Homo sapiens: one gene and its partners. The protein of the gene in region 2 interacts with the protein of the main gene of each other region in a pairwise test. Each region holds a gene or a part of one and is shown on either strand. Other genes may lie near its edges.

The links. Proteins that work in one complex are often made in the same cells at the same time.
Region 1: the proteins of CLEC10A (region 2) and NAPB interact in binary tests that used the Homo sapiens proteins (3 or more experiments, as listed by UniProt).
Region 3: the proteins of CLEC10A (region 2) and FMO3 interact in binary tests that used the Homo sapiens proteins (3 or more experiments, as listed by UniProt).

What each region holds. Positions count from the first base shown.
Region 1 is NC_000020.11:23,418,489-23,426,497, forward strand, and holds the start of NAPB (beta-soluble NSF attachment protein), read right to left. Parts: upstream 3,001-8,009; 5' UTR 2,915-3,000; coding exon 2,817-2,914; intron 1-2,816. UniProt on the Homo sapiens protein: Required for vesicular transport between the endoplasmic reticulum and the Golgi apparatus.
Region 2 is NC_000017.11:7,074,022-7,077,270, forward strand, and holds the end of CLEC10A (C-type lectin domain family 10 member A), read right to left. Parts: intron 2,967-3,249; coding exon 2,871-2,966; intron 2,784-2,870; coding exon 2,712-2,783; intron 2,132-2,711; coding exon of another isoform or gene 2,051-2,131; coding exon 1,964-2,050; coding exon of another isoform or gene 1,955-1,963; intron 1,865-1,954; coding exon 1,710-1,864; intron 1,446-1,709; coding exon 1,339-1,445; intron 1,202-1,338; coding exon 1,033-1,201; 3' UTR 516-1,032; downstream 1-515. UniProt on the Homo sapiens protein: C-type lectin receptor involved in recognition of N-acetylgalactosamine (GalNAc)-terminated glycans by myeloid antigen presenting cells (APCs).
Region 3 is NC_000001.11:171,086,258-171,093,904, reverse strand, and holds the start of FMO3 (flavin-containing monooxygenase 3), read right to left. Parts: upstream 3,001-7,647; 5' UTR 2,924-3,000; intron 1,253-2,923; 5' UTR 1,247-1,252; coding exon 1,115-1,246; intron 1-1,114. UniProt on the Homo sapiens protein: Essential hepatic enzyme that catalyzes the oxygenation of a wide variety of nitrogen- and sulfur-containing compounds including drugs as well as dietary compounds.

The DNA.
Region 1 (8,009 bases), on a different chromosome or scaffold from region 2:
TATACAATATTACTAAACTCCTAAAATTCTAAGTACTCTTCTTCCTGCAAGCTTTCCTGGAGCAAGTATTACTGGAAATAACAGTCTTCAAAGTATAAATCACACTTGCATGGTACATTAATGGTTAAAGCTCTTTCAGATATTTTATTTCATTAAAAGATCAATGAGGCTGGGCGTGCTGGCTCACGTCTGTAATCCCAGCACTTTGGGAGGCCAAGGCAGGTGGATCACGAGGTCAGGCATTCGAGACCAGCCTGGCCAACACAGTGAAACCCCGTCTCTACTAAAAATACAAAAAAAAAAAAAAAATTAGCCGGGCGTGGTGGCGGGTGGCTGTAATCCCAGCTACTCAGGAGACTGAGGCAGGAGAATCGCTTGAACCTGGGAGGCGGAGGTTGCAGTTAGTTGACATCCCGCCACTGCAATCCAGCCCGGGTGACAGTGTGAGACTCCGTCTCAAAAAAAAAAAATCAATGATGCAGTCTACGGCTCTGAAATTCTGGAAAAGTTATCTGTTTGGCCTACTGCTTCTTTGATAAATAACTGGAGCTGATAATTTTGATGAATATGCTAATTAATATCTCATGGTCACTGTCTCCAACATCCATGGTTCCAAATGTTTTATAAACATAACCTCACTGAACTCCCATAAATTTTGAGATATACTATTATTGTCTCCGTTTTATACACTGGAAACTGAAGCACAGAGAGGCTAAGTAACTTGCCCTAGGTCCCAAAGCTAGATAATAAACCAACCTGTTGTACCCAGGTAAGAACTAAGATGCATTAACTTTTGTGTAACTGAGTGTGAATGGTGAAGATTCGTCTTCTTATATGTCCTGTCAATAACATAGGTAGCAACATTTAAAAGGGAGATGTTTCTTTAAAAACAAAGGCTTTTCAAAATCCTTTAAGGATTATAAGCTCAAGATTTGGCCTAGTTTCCTAAAAACATCGAAAACCTCTTTCCCAAAAGGAGTGTTCTCCTGAGACAAGCACCAAGTGCTGTCAAGCTTTTTCCTCTGCCAGTTACAGACTCTCCCACAGGGAAGCACTTCCTGACTTGAAATAATGTTGTAACATTAAAATAACCTCCTGGCATGAGGTACTATGACATTAAATTTTATTAGAGTGAATTTTAAATGTTTTGTGAATCAAAACATTTAAAAGGAGTTAGTGTGGCGCTAGCACTTGATGGTACTGTCATAACTTTTAAATGCAAAACAAAACATAATTCATAGCTATATCTCCTACACATCACATGAGAAATTTAGAAACCAGCTGTGATAAACGTCCTCTGAGAGGTTCCTGAGGACAGGGACCCTTATCTTCTTGCATTTTTGCAGCCTTTATGCATTTCTGCAGTTATGCGTACTGCATGCAACTTGTCCTTAAGCATTTCCTAAAGACGTATCAATAGCGGTAAAGTATTATAATTTATAGCCAAAAGAATGAAGTTGGCAAAACAAGCTAAGAGCCCATTATGTCTGTCTTCTGAAATAGAGTCTGAACTGAATGTGTACAGAAATAAAATCGTGTCTAGTCATGCAATGGGTTAAGTATCTGCTCTTGGTAACAGCAAAGGATCTTTCACTTTCAAAAGAAAACAACGAAACAGGCACACACAAAATTTCTGCCTTTCTCATCCTAAACAGCTGAATCATTCACATATTCAACAGCCCAGAATTCTTCCGGGCTGTCAGTGCGGGCTCTGCTTTTTGAGAGGTTGGAATTTAAAATCCTCCTTAGGAGAGCACGGAAGAATTACAGGAAATTAAAGGGATTCCCAAAGGACGCCTGACTTAAACAGCAGCAGCGTTACCGTTAATCAAACAGGAGGCTCTGGCTATCAATCAATCTCCGGAGAAGGAAAAATACTATGCTGAGAAAATATATTCGTTCATTAGTCAAGTATTTACTAAAGGTGTACTCGGCGCAAGGCCCCTGGAGAGAGGCCAACAAGCACACCAGCTCTGGATCCCTCGCCGGACCGCCCCCTCCCCGGCGGGGCCCACCTGCAGGCGGGACGCCCCCAGGTGCGCGTTCCAGGCGCCGGGGGCGGCCCCCGCACCCACCCCTCCGGCTCCACCCCGGCGCGCCTCACCCGGACCGGTCTCAGGAGCGATACGGGCTTCAGCGTGGCGAAATGCACCAATACGACTCGCTACGCACTGAGAAGGGGGCCCCACGCGCGCCCCGAGCTACCGCGCCCGCGGGCCTCAGGGAGCCGCTGACCTTCTAGGTCGTGGGACCCCCGCACCAACCCGGGCCAGGGCGAGGGGGGCGATCTGGGGTCTCCAGAGGGCGCGTGAGGCTGACAGCCCCCCCCCCAGAGTGTTCTAGGGGCTTCGTGGGGCGCTTGGGGAGCTCTGGGGGTCCTAGGGGTTCTCTGAAAGGCGCGTGGGGGCTGAGGGTCCCTGTGAGACTCTGGGGATTCTAAGGGGGCGTGTTAGGGGATCCGGAGAGCGTGTGGGGGCTGAGGAACCCTGGGGAGTTCTGCCGGCCCTAGGGGGTCTCTAAAGTGCGCGTGGGGGCTGAGAGCCCCTGGGAGGATGCGGGGTTTCCAGGGACCCTGGGGGGGCCTGTGGGGTCTCTGGAGGGCGCGTGCGGACTGAGGGCCCCTGGGCGTCCTGGGGGCTCCAGGGGGCGCTGGGGGACCCTACAGGATTTCTGGAGGGCGCCTGCAGGCTGAGGGCCCCTAGACGTGGTCTGAGGGCCCCAGAGGTTGCGTGGGGGACTCGGGGGGTCAGCCTGAAAGGAAGGGGGCCAAGTACGGAGACCCCCCCCCCCCAGGGCACGCACGGTCTGGCGCTCACCCAAACAGCCCTCGGAGGAAGGAGTGGGAGGCCTTGACTCGCTTCTCGGCCTCCGCCATCAGCTGTACTGCCTCACGCTCCTTCCCCGCGTTGTCCATGTCGCCCGCCGCGGCCGCCACAGCCCCCTCAGCCGGCTCGCTGTGCGCCCAGGCGCCTTAACCCTCCCTCTGGCGGCCGCAGGGACGCAGGCGCAGGCGCGACGCGCGAGGCCTTTCGGGAGCTGTAGTCCGGGTCCTGTCATGGCGGCGGGGATTCGCGAGCCGCCTACTACAGTTCCCAGGAGGCCCCGGGGCGGGGTGTGTGTGAGCCGAGCTTGCGCACCGCTAGCTCCCAGGACGTCGGCGCAGGGGGCGTGACCCCCCCAAAGGGGTCCTGGGCCAAGGTGAACTTTAATTTTGTATGTATGCAGAAATGGAAAAATGATCCGTGGCCTCTAGTAAAGATCACCTCCTCAGTAAGACTCGCATGGCAATGGGATGGATGAAGGAACAGGGGATAACAGATTGGATGGAACCCACACCCTTCATGCAAGTTCTGCAAAAGAGAATCTGGTGTAGCCACCAAAGCATCACATGCTTGATACCGCCCACCAAAAAACGAGCAACAGCTGGCAATAAGAGCCATTTTTATCTCCAAGAGCAAGACGTCCCCAATATAAGTTCAGTTATTTTTAAATCTCCCCAAACTGTAACTTTCTGTTGGTCCTCTCTTCCTTGGTTATAAATGAGTTGCATATATGCAATATATGCATAATCCACTCTTTTGTTGACTGAATTATATTCAATGGATGTGAACCATTGAACTCTTATCCTTTACATAATACTGGCCATAGTGGATGGATCTCCAGGGACAAAATGTTTGCCTGCCAGGAAGACTTCTAATCTCCTAGGAGAAGTATCCATAGATAGATGGGATCCTGTGCCAGAGACTTTCAGGCCTGTCCCAGAGGGAGTTATTTTTGAAGACAATGTCTAGACCATTCAAGCTTGGCAGTGCTAAGGCAGAGATGCTGAAACTAATAAGAAAATCACTGCCAAGTGAGATTTATGACAGTTTCAAACTGTTAATAAATACACTCTGGGCACTGGCATGCAAAATTTTAGAAAATGAAGACTGTCTGTAGAGGGCAAGGCAAGAGGGGCCAAACTCCTAGAAAGAAAGTTGACTAAAGCACATGTCACAGAGTTCATACATTTCAGGACTCCGTAGAGATAGAAAGAAATCTCAGCTCTTCGTGCAGTTTATTTACGATTACTACATGCATTATTCTAACTTTGAAAAGCTGAGCTGTGTGTTTTTGGAGAGAGAAGGAGGCGGGAAATTGGAGGTGACCGTAAATGCAGGGGAGACCAGAGAAAAACTGTAAAAAGTGAACATAAGCATTTGGAAAGCAGAGCAGTCTATGGGGGCTTAATGGAGTGAGGCTAAGTCAAAAGCTCCTAAGTAAATCAGTGTGTTGATTAAATCAGTTGTTCCCTAACGTGGTTCGATGCAGAAGCTCTAATGGATATTTAAGAAATACTGATTCCTAGGCCACTGGGTTTTGGTATCAAGGTCTCTTGCAGCTGGGGTCTAGAAAATGCACATTTTGAAAAGAACTCTCCATCCCTATCCTAAAGCACACAGTTCTAGATTCTCATATCTGTAGTCAGTTGAAAAGGAGCTGGAACAGACTGCCTCCCCGAAGCTAGCACTTGCAATTAAGAGAGACATTTTTGGTGGTTTCTAGTAATTTCCTTCATTCTCTTCTTTGTCACAGGAAATTTGTGGGCACTCCCACCGTTCTGCCAGTCCACACCAAAGTGGGAGAAAACCTTCAAACCTTAATTACTGGGTAGAGCTAGTGTTTTATTCTCCCAAAGGCTGGGGGAGGAAAGGAGGCAGGGCAGAGAGATGAACCTCACAGAATAAGGCCTGACTAGAGAGACAGCTGAGGAATCCTTGAAACAAGAAGGAAAAGGAAAGGAGAAGCACCCCTGGTGTGGATCAGGAGAAGAATAGAAGTCATCTTGGAGAAGAGCCAAAGGACCCACTGCCCACACCTGCGCTGCCCAGGATGGAGCCACTCACCACTGGTGGCTATTTACATTCAAGTTAAATAATATTAAATAAAATGTAAAGTTCCATTTCTTGGCTGTACTAGCCGTATTTCAAGTGCTCAATAGCCACACATAGCCAGTGGCTACTGAAAGAGTTATAAATATAGCATCCTGGTGGATTGACTAAGTTAGACACCTGGTGGATTGACTAAGTTAGATACTTGAGGGCGGTGGCTCACGCCTGTAATCCCAGCACTTTGGGAGGCCAAGGCAAGCGGATCACTTGAGGTGAGTAGTTCAAGACCAACCTGGCCAACACAGTAAAACCCCATCTCTACCAAAAATACAAAATTTACAAAAAATACAAAAATTAGTTAGGTGTCGTGGTGCATGCCTGTAATCCCAGCTACTCAGGAGGCTGAGGCAGGAGAATCACTTGAACCTGAGAGGTGGAACAGAGGTTGCAGTGAGCCGAGATTGCACCATTACACTCCAGCCTGGGCGACAGAGTGAGTGAGACTCTGCTCAAAAAAAAAAAAAAAAGTTAGACACCCAAAAAACGACAGGTGCAAGAAGATTATTTTGACTTTTTCTTTTCTTTTTTGCATACAGAATACACACTGGACACTTTGACCTCTTGTTTCTTTCTTTCTTTTTTTTTTTTTTTTGAGACAGAGTTTCACTCTGTTGCCCAGGCCAGAGTGCAGTGGCTCACTGCAAGTTCCGCCTCCCAGGTTCACGCCATTCTCCTGCCTCAGCCTCCCAAGTAGCTGGGACTACAGGCACCCACCACCACACCCGGCTAATTTTTTGGATTTTTAGTAGAGACGGGGTTTCACTGTGTTAGCCAGCATGGTCTCGATCTCCTGACCTCGTGATCCACCAGCCTCGGCCTCCCAAAGTGCTGGGATTACAGGCGTGAGCCACCGCGCCTGGCCCCAACCTCTTGTTTATTTAAAGGCAAGAGATGAAATTCCCATATGAAAGATGTCCCTCTTATACTAGAACTAAAGCAACATTCTTATCATCAAAGACAGGAAGTTGAGGCTAAGAGAATTCTGTACAAACCCTATTAAACTAACCCTTATCTTCTTAGTCACTTTTCTATCCAATTAACTACCCTAGCCCAAGCCCCTCTGCCTCATCACATTTTCAGTTTACTATTCTTTGTCCAATTCAGTAAATAAGTAACACACTCTAACTGCCTCTTTGGGTTTTCATTTCCTTATGAGGCCTCCCATGCCATGTAAAACTTGTATCAAATACACCTGTGTGCTTTCCTGCTATTAACTTGTCTTATGTAAGTTTAATTTTCAGACTCCACCAGGAGCCTGAGATGCCCCCCTACACTACTATATGGACTGCACAGACAGAGAACAATTTTATCATTCCACAAGTCCTAGTGGATGGCACTAGCCTCTATGTGCTTTGCTTTTCAGAAGTTCTGGACACTTGTAAGAAAAGAAGAAAAAGGCTTCAGGGAGTTTCTGAGAAGGCAGAGCAGGAAAGGAGCGTAGCCTGAACAAGGCAGAGCCAACAGTACTGCTGGCTTTTCCCTGTGAGAAGATGGAGGTGGACACCTGGACACTCAGACTGAATCAGCACATACCCCGAAAGATGATCCATCAAGACAGGGCTGAAGCTACTTGAGAACCCCAATACTAAGAAAGCCAGAGTCAGAAAAGAACAGAATCGATATGGGGAAAGGGTGTAGCCATCTGTGTGTGTTCACAGAAGGGGAGAAAGCACCAGGCAAAGATCCAGTATGGAAAATTATGGGACATCACTGCTGCTTCACTGAAGCAAAGCAAGAAGGCTCACCCACATTAAAGGGGAGGGAAATGAGACGACATCTCCTGATGGGAGGGCCTCTGAGGATTTGCAGATGTTTTCACACCACGACAGCTAGGTTAGAGGGAGTCCGTGCTCACCCTGGTCCACTCTGGTTGCATTGACAAAGTTGGGAAGCTGGAGCCCCTACGCTGGCGTTGGGGGACAGCCTTCAGCTCACATGGCCCTGCATGGCATGGCCCAACGGTCCCTGCCCAGGTCTGCAGTGGCCTTCTCTGATGACATCTCAGCCTTCGTTCTGCCTGAAATGCTAAGCGTGGCTCAGAGTCATCGGACAAGGTCAAACCATCTAAAGCAGAGTGTTCTGCTTCAGAAGGCAGGGAAGGAAGAAGTCCATTTCAGGAGGCTCTTCACCCAAAATCGTTAAAGGAATGCATTAATGAAAATAAATCTTCCATCTGTGTGGATGAGGTTGTGCAATTCTAAGGACAGAATTTAATTGTTCTATTTACAGTGATTCTTTTCATTTTTCTCATAGACTAACAAAACCCAAGAACATTTGAATGGCACATTTCAGAGAAATAATTAAACAGCTTTTGTTAATCTCTAAAAAACTTTTTGAAACAACATCAGTTTAAGTGTTTGTGTGTTATGTGTGTGGGGTGACATTTCACACCCTGTGAAAACTGTTACAAGTTTCCCCAAATGTAACTTTATTAATCTTATTTAACCTTTCCTTAAAAAATTACTCTATAAAATTCAGACCAAAAAGTTAGAAAAGGTAAAATTAAATATACGCAAATATCTGTTACAGAAAACAAAAAATGGTAAATTAAGTTAAAATAAATGCTTATGAGAAAATATATATTATTGTCATTAGTAAGTGCTCTTCTTCTTCTTCTTCTTTTTTTTTTTTTTTTTTTTTTTTTTGAGACAGGGTGTCGCTCTGTTGCCCAGGCTAAAATGCACAATCAGGGGAGGAGCCAAGATGGCCGAATAGGAACAGCTCCGGTCTACAGCTCCCAGCGTGAGCGACGCAGAAGACGGGTGATTTCTGCATTTCCATCTGAGGTACCGGGTTCATCTCACTAGGGAGTGCCAGACAGTGGGCGCAGGCCAGTGTGTGTGCGCACCGTGCGCGAGCCGAAGCAGGGCGAGGCATTGCCTCACCTGGGAAGCACAAGGGGTCAGGGAGTTCCCTTTCCGAGTCAAAGAAAGGGGTGACGGACGCACCTGGAAAATCGGGTCACTCCCACCCGAATATTGCGCTTTTCAGACCGGCTTAAGAAACGGCGCACCACGAGACTATATCCCACACCTGGCTCAGAGGGTCCTACGCCCACGGAATCTCGCTGATTGCTAG
Region 2 (3,249 bases):
CCATTCTGTGAACAAGGCCAGGCTAAGCTAATGTGGCCCAGTCATCCCCATTGTCCCAGCCCAGAGCCAGCCAAATATGAGACATGGGAGCAAGGCTACCCTAGACCAGCCAACCCCAAGCCAACCCACCAGCTGACCACGGACGCATAAACAAGCCCAGCCAAGATGACCCAAACCTGGCCAGACCAGACCTATAGCCTCATGAGCTATAATAAATGCTTACTGTATAAGCCCTGAGCTTTGAGGTGGTTTGTTACACACCAATTGCTAACCAATACACCTGGGGATCTTATCTACATCTCCCAACAACTCTGGGATCTTCAGAGAAATTAAACAATGGCTTTTCCTAATCACCCTAAGTTTATACCATCTTTAAGTGACAGAAAAGATTTGAACTCAAATCTATATGAGAAGAAAATGCTATTTTCTCAATCACATAGGACTTTCGAAGGCTTCACCTGGCTTCTCCACTCTGCCATTTTTAGATTGCCAAAAATCAAGCAACACAAAGTACGTAAGTTCTCACGAGAGTATATATTCACTTATATGAAGTATATACACGAGAGTGTATGATTTCACTTATATGAAGTTCTAGAAGCTCTAGAAGAGGCAAGGCCAATAAATAGTGAAAAAGAAGTAGATCACTGGCCTGGAAACAGGGAAGTGGTTGGACTGCCCAGAGGCATGAGGGGACTGGTGGGGGCGATGGCAATGTTATCTATTGCGATCGGAGTGGTAGTCACCTAGGCATGCATATTTGTCAAAGTCATCTCTACTCTTTAAATGAGTGCATTTTTATTATGTAAAAATTATACCTTCATGAAGTTGACTTTCAAAAGTTGGAAAAAAAATAAAAGCTTAAGAACACTATACCATCTTTTTAAAATTAAAGAGAAAAAAATTCAAAATGTTAGCAGTGCTTCCAATCTCCCAGTGCTTATTTCTCTCCCAGAGCGGTCTTGCGAGGAGGTCGTGAGAAGAGTCCTCCTCCCACCGCCATTTCTGTGGCCGGGTGGTCCCACCAAAGGCAGCTCAGTGACTCTCCTGGCTGGTCTGACCCAGGCCAGCCTCGCAGACCCAGTGGTAGGGCCTCTGGCAGACGTCGTCATTCCACCTGCCGTCTGGATGGAAGTGAGCACAGTCCTCGCCTCCACCCAGCCCGTGCCCCTGCCAGTCGTCTGGCTGGCCTGGCTTCCAGTTCCTGAGAGGAAAAGACAACAGCAAGCTAGGAAGGGTAGATGGAGTAGAATTCAGTTCAGGGGAGGAGAGGCTGCCAGTCAGATCCCTGGGGGAAACGCTGACGGAGGACATTGGCACAGAAAGCCAGGGTGCACTCACTGGAAGCCGGTCGCATAGTCTGTTCCATCCACCCACTTCCAGGCTCCTTCAGGGTCACTGAGGCCCATCCAGGTGTATGCGGAGCCTAGATATTTCTGGACAAAATTCTGCGGTGACAGAAGGGCAGTGGTGACTTCTTCCCATCCCAGCCAACTCCTTAAACTAGTGATTCTCAACTTTAGCTCTTCGTTAAATCAACTGAGGAGTTTGGAGATGTTTCTCTGGATGCTCAGGCCTATTAAATCTCTGAGGGTGTGGCACAGATGACAGTCATTCTGGAAGCTCCCAGATGATTCCAATGTGCGGCCAAGCTTAAGAACCATTTCCCTAAATGGGACATGTCTTAGGAACTGAGTACCAGAAGCCCTCACCTGCTCCTCCCTGGAGTTGATGACCACCAGGTGGGCGTTCTTCAGCTGGCAGTACTTCTCAGCCTCGGCCCAGGACATCCCAGAGTGAGAGAACCAGTAGCAGCTGTCTTGGTGCTCCACCCAGTTGACAGGGCAGCAGGTCCCTTCAGTGGAGGCTGATTGGGGAGAAATAGGATAGGGTGGAGAGGCTGAGGCTCTGCCCAGTGGGCCATGGGCAGAAAAGTAGGGCCAGGTACTCCCCATACCTTCCTCACCATTGTTGTTGAGAGTAGCCACCTGGCAGGTCAGTTTCTTCAGGTCTTGCACCAGCTGCTGGACTCGCAGGAGCATTTCAGAATGAACTGGGACACACACAGATGGGCAGTGGGGACAGTGGCCTAGGTGTGCCTTCTGCGTAGTGTGTTCCTGGAGCTCAGATACCCCTGCACAGGGCCAAGCCAGGGAATGTTCCTTCCCGCCCCCACCCACCCCCTACATCATGGCCAGGTACAGCCATCAAATCTGCTTTGGATTCCTCTGCCCCTGTTTCTCCAGCCTGCTCTCCAGAGAAAGCATGCTGCCTTTCTTTCTTTCTTTCTTTTTTTTTTTTTTTTTTTTGAGACGGAGTTTCACTCTTGCTGCCCAGGCTGGAGTGCAATGGCGCGATCTCGGCTCACGGCTACCTCCGCCTCCCGTGTTCAAGCAATTCTCCTGCCTCAGCCTCCCTAGTAGCTGAGATTACAGGCGCCCACCACCACACCCAGCTATTTTTTGTATTTTTTTTAGTAGAGACGGGGTTTCACCATGTCGATCAGGCTGCTCTCGAACTCCTGACCTCGTGATCCACCCGCCTCGGCCTCCCAAACTGCTGGGATTACAGGCGTGAACCACTGCGCCCGGCCTGCATGCTGCCTTTCAAGCTGCTGGCTGAAGGGGAGGGCAGTTCAGCACCAGGAGTCTGTTCCCACCTCCACTGTGTCTGAGCGCCTAGCCCCCCACACCCATACTCGGAGGGTCTCTCACCTGCCTGCCGTTCCTGCTTGAAACCCTCCACCTCAGCTTTCAGAGATGCTATCGTTTCTTCCAAGCTGCTGCCTGGAGGACACGGAGACTTGGCTTAGGGGTCAACTTCCTCCTCCCTGGCCTGGCCCCAGCCCAGAGCCCCATCCAAACCAGACTCACCCTGGGAAGTCAGTGCCTGGATCTCCGCCACAGTGTTTGAGGTGAAGTTGCTAAAATCTGTTCTCAGGGTCACCAGGTCCCTCTGAAATTTGGAATCTAAACAGGTGGATGGGAAGGTCAGTGCTGGGATTCATCAGGTCCTCTGTACCAGCACCGAGCAGGGCCCTCCATAAGCATTGCCTTATTGGGTCCTCACGGCAACCCAGTGGGGCAGGCACTATTATTGTTCAATATTGCCGATGAGGAAACTAAGCCTCAGAGAGGTGAAGTAATTTGAGTACATAACCCAACTACTCAGTGACAAAGCCAGCAGCCATCCTGACTATGGGTCCGTCAACTCTCTCCATCACTACCCCCACCACCGTCCCCATCAATCACT
Region 3 (7,647 bases), on a different chromosome or scaffold from region 2:
TGAGATGGCGCCACTGCCCTCCAGCCTGGGAGACAGAGTGAGACTCCCACTCAAAAAAAAAAAAAAAAAAAAAAAAAGATATTAGTGAGTATGTGGAGAAAAGGAAACACTGTTGGTTGGAATATAAACTATAGAAAACAGTATGGAGATTTCACAAAGAATTAAAAATAGAACTACCATTTGACCCAACAATGCCCCTAGTAGATATCTATCCAAAGGAAAAGAAGTCATTATATAAAAAAAATTCCTGCACCCATATGTTTATCGCAGCACCATTCACAATAGCAAAGAAATGGAATCAACCTTGTTGTCCAATAAGGATGATTGGATAAAGAAAATGTGGTATATACATACATATATGTATATATACACACAGACGCATATACATATATATGTATGTATATATGCACACACCATGGAATACTACCCAGCGAGAATACAGAATGAAATTATGTCTTCTGCAGCAACATGGATGGGACTGGAGGCCATTATCTTAAGTGAAATAACTCAGAAACAGAAAGTGAAATACCACATATTCTCTCACTTACGATTGGGAGCTACATAATGTATACACATTGACATAGAATGTGGGAATAATAGACATTGGAGACTTGGAAGGGTAGGAGAGTGGGAGGCGGTTGAGGTATGAGAAATTACTTAATGGGTGCAATGTACATTATTTGGGTCATGGCTACACAAAAGCCCAGACTTAACTGCTATACATTATATCCATGTAATAAAACTGCACTTGTACCCCCTAAATCTGTAAAAAAAAAAAAAGATGTGAAAAGTTATTGTGTTTTAAATGAGTAAATAATTATAACTACATAAACCTAACTAATATTTACCACTAATTTTATGTCCAAGTGGCTCTTATTAATGATCTATCAAGGGAGAACTGTAATGGAGAATTTCAAAGCCCATTGTCTAATTTACTTCTGACTTGCAAGGAGGTTACTTTCCAACCTGCTCTTGACACTGTACTTAGTGGATTCCAATTCTAACAGATATGATAACTGCCATGGTAGCAGGTTTGGAAACCTGTGTGCACACAGTGTGCTCTTATACACTTCCCAACCTATTTTCCTGTCTATTACAACAACATGCTACTCACTGAAAATTTCCACAGGCCCCCAATGTCATTGCTCTTCTCAAAGCAGGTGGGCTCCAGCCCCTCTTCCAGACAGCTCCTGATGGAGGCCAAGCCACTCACACCAGCTCCAATGATGGCCACTTTCTTCCCCATGGTAACCTGTGCAAAGGCCCAGAGAACATTTCCAGTAACAACATTGCTGAAAATGTATTTACTTATTTATCTATTTATTTTGATTTCGCTCTTTGGCTTAATAAAAACTTTACTTTTTAATAAACACTGGCTGAGTATGGTAGCTCACGCCTGTAATCCCAGCACTTTGGGAGGCTGAGGTGGGAGGATCACTTGAGCCCAGGAGTTTGAAAGCAGCCTGGACAACAGAGTGAGACCCTGTCTCCACAAAACAAAACAAAAAACAAACAAAATCAGCTGGGTGTGGTGGCACATGCCTGTACTCCCAGCTACTCAGGAGGCTGAGGCGGTAGGATCACTTGAGTTCAGGAGTTCCAGGCTGCAGTGAGCCGTGATTGTACCACTGCACTCCAGCCTGGGTGACAGAGTAAGACCTTGTCTCTAGAAAACAAATTCCTTTTAGTGATCTAACTACATTTTCATTTCTCTCTAATTTCTAAAGAGAAAGTTTTCTTCTGAAAAAAAAATAAGCACTTTGTTTTTAGTCATCAGCTCTCCAAAATTAAGAGACTGATGACCCAGCATACATATTTATCTTTTTTGCTTTTGGACTTTGTCATTTACTGTCTACCAAAAAGAGTAAGCAGAAGAAATAAAGATTCGCAACTAAAACACCTGTAGACACATCCACCCACCCACCCACATACATATGCCTGTATATGGGAATGAAGAAACACATATGTATATGTATACACACACACAGTCATACACACACACACACACACACGCAATCTGTATCTTCTTTTTACTTAGATACGGATAATGAGGAACAAGGTCTGAAGATGTCTGTATTTCAGTGTGCCAGGTAGTCACCCCTTCTCCCCATCAATAATGTACTTCACCTTCTCAATTAAAAAGACAAGTAAATGGTGCATACCTATAGTCCCAGCTACTCTGGGATTATATAGTCCTGTTGAGCTGGGGTATCGCTTGAGCCCAGGAGTTTGAGGCTGCAGTGAGCTATGGTTACAGCACTGCACTGTAGCCTAGGTGACAGAGTGAGACCTTCTCTCCGGGGGGTGTTGGGGAAAGAAGTCATGTTCTTACCTAAAAACAATTTTTTCCCACTACCTTCAGCGTCCATTCCCCTCTAAGAAAATTACGTTTCCTAACTTTTTTCTGTTCCTGACACTGTCTTTAGGCTCTACCACTACTTCTTTCACTACTTTTTTTTTTCTTTTTAGACAAAATCACATAGCTATGCAGGGAAATAGACTTGGATGATTAAACATCATGATCCGTGATTCCCAGAAACAAACAAACTGCCTGAATTATATCATTCTCATTCTAGCCATATTTGGTATAAAACTACAGCATGCTCCTTCTTCATTTACCCATCCCACCCTCAACCCTTTACTATATCACCTTTTATTCTTTTTCTTTTCTTTTTTTTTTTGAGACGGAGTTTCGCTTTTATCCAGGTTGGAGTACAATGGTGTGATCTCGGCTCACTGCAACCTCTGCCTCCCAGATTCAAGTGATTCTCCTGCCTCAGCCTCCCAAGTAGCTGGGATTACAGGCATGCACCACTACGCCTGGCTAATTTTTGTATCTTTGGTAGAGATTTGGTTTCACCATGTTGGTCAGGCTGGTCTCAAGCTCCTGACCTCAGGTGATCCACCCGCCTCAGCCTCCTACCTTTTTAATTTTCCTACCCGTTCTTTGTCTTCTTTTCTTCTGTGTGTCTACGTCCTGTCCAACCGTCTGGGCAGTTTGAAAGAGAAAATGTTCTAGTGAGCCTACATATTAGGAAGATTGTTGAAAAATGGGAGGAGCTGCTCTTAAAGAGATACTCATTTATTGGTCCTTGAATGGGTGAGCACACGCCAACCCTCTGTGATGGATGGGACTGTAGGCCAGTCTCCCATGGCCACCCAGTTTCTACTTTTCCTTTGATTATGGTAAACACAAGCTGCTGGTTATACTCTTGGACCCTTGGCCTGGGAGTCAAGTAGTTTCTCCCAGGTGACTTTGCAGTTCTGTACTCCATTTTATTATGTGTTATTTGAAAGTTTACCTTGTTTTCCTTATTCCTAGTTCTTTTGTGGGTAGCTCATAGTAGTCCTCCAAATACTGTAGAAACTTAGCTACTTAATTGAGATAGCCCAATAAGGAGGATGACTTTTCTCTGCTCTCTCTTTTCATGTCCTGTCTTGGAATTTTGGGGTCAAAGGCCTGTATTTCTCAAGCTTATATTTACTTGTTTCTGAGTACAGTGTGTGGTCACAGAAAAGATCAAAATTCCACAAATTGATCTATTAGTACCAGGAACCAGGTAAAATTAGTACCAGGTAAAATTATGTTGGCAGTTAGACAAAATAAACTGCACCTAACTCCCAGTCATGAAATATAGTAGAATTTCAAAAAAAGTTTTCCTATCAACTATATTTTGATGTCACTTAGAATTATAACATCTCACTCATTTTGTCTAGTTAACTCCTTCATTAAGCAAGTGATACTTAGTGTAAACTGGTATATGTCTAATTTTGAGGAATTACCCTTCATGCCTTTTGAAGACAGTAATCTTCATCTCTGAAGTGTGAGTATGAGAGATTCCAAATCACTTCTATAGCTCTGTGGCCTTGGGCAAATCACTTAACCTTTCCAATCGTTGATTTACTCATTAATAAAATAGGGATAACTACACTATTAATTCCTGTCTGGCTATTTTTTTTTTAACAAGGATTAGAGGATTAAAGGGTATGTACACATAAATACATGTATACATAGGTACATATAAAATGTGGCATGTAGTTAAAAATGAGCAAATGTGACTTGTAGATAAAAATTAAAAACAAGTCATAGGTTCATGAAATTTTCTAGGGCTGCAATTCAGACAACATGATTTTCTCTGCTCTCATTTTACATAGAACTTCTTTTCAGTTTTTAATGCTACATAAATAGAATTAAAATAATGCAAAGAAAAGATTGTGACTACTTCAGGAAGCAATACTACTCCTATAGCCTTATTCATTTAAAGATTGGCAGGACACACCCAATTCTACCTTGGCCTCCGATGTTTTATCTCTCTAGGAGGTGAAAAGGCCACCTATTCTTTGCTGTCCTTCACAAGAATGTATCTGAAGTCGACACATTTATTAGTCCTGTCTCTCTCTAGCCTATCCTTTGCTTGCCACAGCTTTCTGCAGAGCCCCTTTTTAAATCTTCAGAATCTCAAATGCCCAGGCTCTGGTTGGGGCAGTGGGCATTCTCTACTCTGTTGTCCCCTCCAAATCACAAAACTGCTAAGAAGAAACTTTCATCCCTGGATGGTTGCTAGATTATTGTTGCTGTTGGAGGATATGAGTGGAAGACTTATATTCTGTTCTCTTGCTCTATATTTTCTTTGTATTTTAAAGAAATTTTTGTTTTCTTCTAATTGATTTGCTGGAGGCAAGGCATATATCTCTTGTGACACCTGTTGTCATGTCTGATGATGCATAACAGTTGAAAGATTTCTATAAAATGAGAGTGGCTTTTGGAGACTCAGACTTGATCATCAAAGCTATGATGGAACATTCCAAAGATGTGGATTCTTTAGGGTCCATATTCTGAAGCTAATATCTCGTAAAGAATCGAGTGAACAACAATTAGTGCAGGCAGTGCTAAATGAAGCTGACAGTCTGTTGCATCTTCTGCTACAAGTTTAAAAAGTGTCTCAAACTTTTTTAGTTTCATAGCCAGAGGAATGCTGTGTTTATTTCCAAAGATATATTTTTTCATATGTTTTTAGCTATCTTTGTCATGTATGTGTGGGCTCTAAGTCAGTGATGTAAAATTATGTAAAATGTTTTCTCTAATGGGCTTGTCAATTGTTAACTTCAATAATGATAAAAATAAAGTGTCTTCAGTTTTTCTTTAGAAAAAAGATATATGCTGTTTGATCAGGTGATTTTACTTTTGGGAATATATCTTATAAAAATACAAATATAAGCATGCTTTAACAAATTGTATAAAAAAGTTTATTTCAGTGTTGTTCAAAGTATCAAAAATGAGATAGAATGAATGCTTTTTGTTAGAGAAGTGAATAAATTATTCTGTAAATTAGAGCTAACAGATAGCTTGGAGAAATACCCCATTAAAGTACTAGAAAGGAAAAAAGCAACATGCAAAAAAGTGCTTATAATATGATCCTTATTTCAAAAATGAATGCTGATTTTTAAAAATCTGTATAAATGTGAACACAGACACACATAGACATACTCATATGATCTGTAATGGATTTTGATCAGGGAGAAAAATATGAATGTATATATAAGAAGCGGTTAGTATGCTTTACCTTTGGGGGTCATCATATGTGAGTAGATGAAAGAGCTTAGAATAAATAAAATAGGAAAACTAAATTTAAAAAATTATGATAGGGAAAAAATAAAACCAAAACATTTTAGAACTTAGGTAATAAAAGACTGTCTATTTAATCCTGGAACTAACAAGCAAGTGCAAACAATGTTTGTCTGTGATTTTTGACATTTGGTTGCACTGTTGAGAAACACTGAGTTAAAGTCAGGTCCAATGATAGGTCCAGAGTGGTTACTCCACTTGTTCCTTTACAAAGGGGCAAGGTCTCTGTTCCTCACATTGCCACTATTGCCCCAGGGGCAGGAAAACCAAGACAGCCCTGATTAAGGAAAATAAATGAAGAGCTTATCTTACAACTTTGAGTTCCCATCTGAGCCTTCTGTGGCAGCTGCTGGAGTTACAAATAACCCTAAGTTACCAGGAAAATGGTCGCCATTACCAGAGCCTTCCAGAGCAGGAGCCTTATGGAATAAGAAAGATCACTTTCATCGCTCATTAGAGAAAGAACCCTTGTGTTGGTTGCTTTGGTAATTTTGGGGCAGTAGAGGTGAGGGGACAAGATAGCCTTTTAGGCTCCATTCCATTTCTCATATTCTATCACCTGGAACTGGGTTGGTGTATAATGGCCAAAAAGACTTTCCAGGCTAGTTTTGGATGCATGAGGAATGGGGACAGTAGTTTGAGTTTCACACCAGAGAATCTGACCATTTCATTCATAGAGCCCACATATTGCACCTGAAAGTAATGGGCCAGCCAGGAACACGCAAGAACGCAAAAGAGGAAGAAAACAGAAACCCTATTGGCTGATGTTAGCCTGATACTCATGTCTGCATTGTAAAACAATAATTTTCAAAATGTACTTTCCACTTAGAATCATGTAATTTTAGAACTTGAAAGAACTTTAAGGATTAAATTTATGAACGATCTCACTATAACATTTTGGGCTAGGCAATTTTTCTTTTCTTTCTTTTTTTTTTTTTTTTTTTGAGACGGAGTCTCACTCTGTCGCCCAGGCTGGAGTGCAGTGGCGGGATCTTGGCTCACTGCAAGCTCCGCCTCCCGGGTTCACGCCATTCTCCTGCCTCAGCCTCCCAAGTAGCTGGGACTACAGGCGCCCGCCACTACGCCCGGCTAATTTTTTTGTATTTTTAGTAGAGACGGGGTTTCACCGTTTTAGCCGGGATGGTCTCGATCTCCTGACCTCTTGATCCGCCCGCCTCGGCCTCCCAAAGTGCTGGGATTACAGGCGTGAGCCACCGCGCCCGGCCTCTTTTCTTTCTTTATTTTTTGAGTTGGAGTCTTGTTCTGTCACCCAGGCTGGAGTGCCGTGGTGCGATCATGGCTGACTGCACCCTTGAACTCCTGGGCTCAAGAGATCCTCCTGCTTCTGCCTCCCAAGTAGCTGGCACTGCAGGTGAGTGCCACCATGCCTGGCAAATTTTCTTTTCTTTTTTTGTAGAGTAGAGATGGGGGCCTTGCTATGTTGCCCAGGGTGGTCTCAAACTCCTGGGCTCAGTGATCCTCCAGCTGTAGCCTCCCAAAGTGCTAATATTACAGGCTTGAGCACTATGGCAAGTCAGCCTGGGCAGGGCAATTTTTCATTGTGTGAGATCATCCTTAAGATTGCAGGGTATTTAGCTTACCTAGTATCTAAGTCAATAAATGCCAGTGAAAACTACTAGGCATAGAAAAAGAAAAGACTACCCCTATATATTTCCAGATGCCACTATGGGGAAGTATTTCTGCCATCAAGACCCACTTATAGATCAACACACCTATTTTGTTTTTAGACCTAAAAATGTGAAAGAGGTTAATTAACTAATTCAACTTGTAGTTGTAGCTGACTAGTTACAAGTCAGACACACGTGCACTGTCCAGCATGCTGAGTTGCGTGGCATATTAAATAGCCAAAATAGAAAATATGTAAAATGAAGGGCAGCTGGTTGGAACTTATAACTAAGGAGAATGCACATGATGCCTTTCATTGGCACATTAAGCTGCATTCATATACACTTTTCATTTTTTAATCTAGTAAATGAGTGTCTATTATATTCCAGATAATG